Regions from separate parts of the Homo sapiens genome. Here region 1 is linked to region 2. Evidence: fine-mapped expression QTL. A gene starts in region 2. The other region holds a variant in brackets. All regions are shown on one strand. Distances are between the middles of the regions.

Evidence for each region. PIP is the estimated chance that this variant, and not a neighbour inherited with it, causes the effect.
Region 1: its variant is the best candidate, but not a certain one, in a credible set for the expression of NLE1 in lung (TOPMed, PIP 0.85).

Annotation. Positions count from the first base shown.
Region 1 is chr17:35,250,200-35,252,909 of GRCh38, reverse strand. All of the region lies in intron 1 of SLFN5 (schlafen family member 5), which reads right to left. Among named protein-coding and RNA genes, the nearest start is that of SLFN5, 8.5 kb to the right of the region's middle. The variant A/G (reference allele first, on the strand shown) is at 1,599.
Region 2 is chr17:35,140,997-35,144,014 of GRCh38, reverse strand. NLE1 (notchless homolog 1) reads left to right here and starts at 1,712. Exons shown (of 13, transcript NM_018096.5): 1 at 1,712-1,757; 2 at 1,893-2,036. The coding sequence starts at 1,740. RefSeq lists an enhancer at 1,404-2,281.

The sequences.
Region 1 (2,710 bases), 110 kb before region 2:
ACACGTGCCAGAAGAAAAAGCCCGAGAGACAAGAGGCTCCTGGCAAGCAGAAGTGGGAGAGGCTGAGGCCATTGGTTTCCTTACTGTGTCTAAGGAACTATGATTTTCAAAACTACATTCATGAGACTTTCACTTCCAGTCAGAATAAAGTACTAGGGACTAGGCTACTCTCCTGTCTGAAACAACTAAAACATTTTTGAAGAAAATTTGATGAACACTAGAAAAAATCAAGATCTAAAATCTAAGATGTTACACAAACCTTAAGCACAAGAAATGTGAAAAAAAAAAATACTGAGGAACATCATAATTAAATTGTTCAAAACCAGTGATACAGAAAAAAATCTTAAAAGCATCCAGAGGAAAAAGGCACATTATCTATAGAGGAACAAAAGATGACATTAGAATTTTTCCAGGATTATGTTGTTGACAGGCGACACATAACCTGAAAATATCCTCAGCTGTCCTTTTTGGTTTTTGTTTTTTTAGAGACAGGGCTTTTCACTCTGTCACCCAGGCTGGAGTGCAGTCATGGCTCACTATAGCCTTGAACTCTTAGGCTCAAGCTATCCTCCTGCCTTAGCCTCCCAAGTAGCTAGGACTACAAGAACGCGCCACAATGCACAGCTAATTTTTTAAATTTTTTGTACAGATAGGGTCTTACAAGATTGCCTAGGCTGGTCTCAAACTCATAACCTCAAGCAATCCTCCTGCCTCAGCCTCTTAAAGTGCTGGGATTACAGGTATGAGCCACCATGCCCCACCGCTCAGCTGTCTTTTTAGTTTTCCCACGGATGTGGATTTAAGATAGTGACCAATTTGTCTATATTATAATGAGTAATTTCATGGAGAAATTTAGCTAATATCCATTTTAAATAATTTGGTGCCAGCAAGTGGCCATTTTGAGAGCACCAGAGATTATGAGAGTAAAGATTCAACCAGATTTTTTCATGGGTGGATCACCTGGGGGCAGGAGTTTGAGACCAGCCTGGCCAACATGGTGAAACCCTGTTTCTACTAAAATTACAAAAATTAGCAGGGCGTGGTGGTGTGTGCCTGTAATCCCAGCTACTCGGGAGGTTGAGGCAGGAGAATCGCTTGAACCTAGGAGGCAGAAGTTGCAGTGAGCCGAAATCATGCCATTGCACTCCAGCGTGGGCGACAGAACAAGACTCTGTCTTTAAAAAAAAAAAAAAAAAAAAAAAAAAAGTCCGGGCGCCATGGCTCATGCCTGTAATCCCAGCACTTTGGGAGGCCGAGGCTGGCAGATCACGAGGTCAGAGATTGAGACCATCCTGGCTAACACGGTGAAACCCCGTCTCTACTAAAAATACAAAAAATTAACCTGGCGTGGTGGCGGGTGCCTGTAGTCCCAGCTACTCGGGAGGTTGAGGCAGGAGAATGGCGTGAACCCGGGAGGCGGAGCTTGCAGTGAGCCGAGATCGCGCCACTGCACTCCAGCCTGGGTGACAGAGCGAGACTCCGTCTCAAAAAACAAAAAAACAAACAAAAAAAAACCCCAAATTAGTAATGTTTGTGTTGCATGAGAAACCATGAGGTCAGGCGGGGAATGAGCCTAGAGCTAGTTTGGCAGAAGCATC[A/G]TCAAGTTTTGCAGTGACAGCTAATGCCCTAAACCAATAGAAATAAGCCTTTTAAACAGGTCAAGAGTGAGGCTACAGCAAATAATGGGGTTTTCATGGTTTCCATGAAGTTGAAGGCCCAAGGGCTTCTCTACATCGCTCTCGCACAAATAGACAAAATGGCTTTCTACAGTTGGGGTGCTTTGGGAAGGAGGCTGTTGAAGAACTGATTTCAGGTTCCAGGAGGTCTTTATGTTTGGACTTTCAAAGGAGAGAATCCCTCACTGAAGACAGTCAATCCATAAAGAGGTGCTCCAATTTCAGAAAACTTTGGCACCTATTGTTTGCAATATCCAGTTAACCTAGAAATCCTCTCATCTGTCATTTTGTGAGGGATTTACAATAACTTCGGATAATCTTTATCAGGAGAGAATATTTATCCCTCCTTAGAGAGGTTTACTTCAAATAATGAATTGTGTTTTGGTAAAATTGTAATTTAGCCTTAAAAATTTTATGTCCCTTCTCTACTAAGGCTGAGAGCAAGAAAATGGAATCCTTTTAACAGGCTTCCTTGTTCTCTGAACAAAGTAGGAGATCATTTTTATATTGTATCAGAACTGAATCACAAGGTCACAAGGGAAATTTATGTCTTTTAACTCTTTTTTTTTTTTTTTGAGATGAGTCTTGCTCTGTCGCCCAGGCTGGAGTGCAGTGGCGCGACCTCGGCTCACTGCAAGCTCCGCCTCCCGGGTTCACGCCATTCTCCTGCCTCAGCCTCCCGAGTAGCTGGGACTACAGGCGCCCGCCACCACGCCTGGCTAATTTTTGATATTTTTTTTTAGTAGAGACCGGGTTTCACCGTTTTAGCCAGGATGGTCTTGATCTGACCTCGTGATCCGCCCGCCTCGGCCTCCCAAAGTGCTGGGATTACAGGCGTGAGCCACCGCGCCCAGCCATCTTTTAACTCTTACTTGAGCATCTGGACAAAAACAGGGGCTTCAATGAATCTCTGGAGTATGACTGTCCAGTTATACCATTGTCCTTCCCAAGGCAAAGGCAGAAAAGTATTGACTGTCTTTGTCTAAAGGTGCACTGAAAAAGGCAGAGAAAATTTCTACTACAGTAAAGCAAGT
Region 2 (3,018 bases):
ATGTTTTAAGAAAGCTTACGAATTTGTGTTGGGCTGCATTCAAAGCCATCCTGGGCTGCATGCAGCCTGTGGCCCAGGGGTTGGACAAGCTTGAATTAGGGGAAGGGCACAATTCACTCCATAACAGTTCCAGACAGAAAAAACTGCATGGGCAAAATCACTGATGCAGGAAGAGCCATGCCTTGTAAGAACTCAGAAAAAGCCAGCAAGATTTAACCTAAAGAGAGGGGTGGCTGGACATAGCAAGGCTGAATTGACCATTATAAGGAGTGTTCTTTTTTTCCTGCATGTAAGGGAGCCGTCGCAGGGTTTGAGGGTGAAGAGCAGCAGGCCAGATTTTTGGTCTGAAAAGATAACCCTGGCTGCATCGTGGAGAATGGGTAGAAAGAGGCAGGAATGGAAATGGGGGGGCTCATCGGGAGGCTGTTGTAGCGGTCCAGGCAGGTGATGATGGTGACTCTGACCAGAGTGAGGCAGTGGAGATGGGGAGAGCAGATTCAAGCTGTGTTCATGAGGATGACTTGGCAGAGCTTGAGACTGCCTGAGCAGTGGAGGGAGAGAGAGGAGAGTTGGCAAGGGAGATCCTTCGTTTCAGGCAAAAGAGCTCAAGTTCATTGCTGTCTGCTTCAGTTCCTCAGTAATATGGGGAGAAAAGGGTTGTAAGAATTAAATGAGTTATGTGGGAAAGCACTTAGAACAATTCCTGACTTGTTGATGTCATTATCACTATTATTGCTTTACAGCATTGATGATTGTAGAAATGATTTGCTTTTGTACTCGAGTATTATTGAGTTGATCCATTTTATTTATTTATTTATTTATTTATTTATTTATTTATTTATTTATTTATTGAGACAGAGTCTTGCTCTGTCATCCAGGCTGGAGTGCAGTGGTGAGAGCTCGGCTCACTGCAACCTCTGCCTCCCAGGTTCAAGAGAATCTACCACCTCAGCCTCTCCAGTAGCTATGACCACAGGCGCATGCCACCACGGCTGGTTAATTTTTTTGTATTTTTAGTAGAGACCTGGTTTCACCATGTTGGCCAGGCTGGTCTCGAACTCCTGGACTCAAGTGATCTGCTCGCCTGGGCCTTCCAAAGCGCTGGGATTACAGGTGTCAGCCACCACGCCCAGCCTTGACTTGATCCATTTTTAAAAGGATACTAATTTCTAGGCTAGGCGTGGTGGCTCACACCTGTAATCCCAGCACTTTGGGACACTGAGGCTGGGGAGTGGGGGACTTGCTGCTTGAGTTCAGGAGTTTGAGACCAGCCTGGGCAACATAGTGAGACCTCGTCTCTACAAAAAATGAGAAAAAAATAACCGGGCAGGGTGTCATGTGCCTGTAGTCCAGGCTACTCTGAGGCTGAGGTGGGAGGATCGCTGTGCCAGAAAGTTCGAGACTGCAGTGAGCCGTGGTGGCACCACTGCCCTCCAGTCTGGGCGACGGAGTGAAACTCTGTCTCAAAATGAAATTAAATTAAAATGGGGCAAGAATCCCTGTTGTGAAGAGTCAAAAGTTTACTGTGTCCTCTAAGACCCTGGCGAAAAATAAATGTGAAGGCTGTTGAGGGGCGGGAGGAGCACCAGGTAAGCCCATTTCTAATCCCTGAGGCCGTGCGCAGCGGGACGCTTCTCCTCCCCAACAGCAGAGGGCGATGTGGCCGGCGGCGACCCCGCCCGACCACGGAGACGGCGCTCTGTCTGCCGGGCTCTTTCTCCTCCACGTGGGGACGCAGGATGGCGGCAGCAGTGCCGGTGGGTGTGCGTGGATGGGGGCGGGGGGCGTCGCCGCGGGGCGCTAGGGCCCGGGTCCCTGAGGCCTGAGAGAGGCGAAGTGGGGCCCTTCTGGGCGGGCGACCAGACTGACTCCCGCCCCACTTGCTCGCGCAGGACGAGGCGGTGGCGCGCGATGTGCAGCGGTTGCTAGTGCAGTTCCAGGATGAGGGCGGGCAGCTGCTGGGTTCCCCGTTCGACGTGCCCGTGGACATCACCCCGGACAGGCTGCAGCTCGTGTGCAACGCGCTACTGGCCCAGGTAAGTGGCTGGCCAGGGCGGCCTCGCATCTCCACCCCCGGGCGGATGCGGTGGGGGAATCATATTACCGAGGGTCTGCGGTTCATGGTCCCCCGCTAACGGACTGTGGTGACCCACCTGGCGTGAGCTCCCACCTATGTCAGAGATGGAATCAGTGGCATAGCGCTTTACACGCCAACCAAAGGGGTCCACCTGCGGAGAGGGGCCTAGCTTTGAACGCACCGGATGCTGTATTTCATTGATTCTTTGTCACAGTCCCCCAGTCTGGGACACGTTAATATCCCCATTTTACAGCGTGGCCCGGAGGGACTCAGTATTTTGCACGATGCTATGTAGTAGGTAGCAGATTTGGAATTGGAACCCAAAACTATCCGAATACCCATGCTTTTATTTATTTATTTATTTACCTTTTTTTTTTTTTTTTTTGAGACGGAGTCTCACTTTGTCGCCAGGCTGGCAAGCTGGAGTGTAGTGGCGTGATCTCTGCTCACTGCAATCTCTGCCTCCCAGGTTCAAGCGATTCTCCTGCCTCAGCCTCCCGAGTAGCTGGGACTACAGGCGCGCGCCACCACACCCAGCTAATTTTTGTATTTTTAGTGGGGACTGGGTTTCACCACGTTGGCCAGGATGGTCTCGATCTCTTGACCTCGTGATCCTCCCGCCTTGGCCTCCAAAGTGCTGGGGATTACTGGCGTGAGCCACCGCACCCGGCCTTTGCTTTTAACCTTTAAGCCAGTGTGTTTACTGAAGAGCTGCCCTGGGGACAGGGGAGGTCCTTAAAATTGCAGTTCCTGGACCCCATCCCAGCCTTACTAAACCAAACTCTGGGATGAAGCAGAAAGTCTACATTTTTTAACAGGCGTTTTGGGAGCTTTTTACACAAATATAGTGTAGTGTGGTAGTTTGGGAAACACTGCATAATGCTATATGCTAATCCTATCTTGGACGTAAAGAACCTGAATTAATCATTGGCAATAGGACA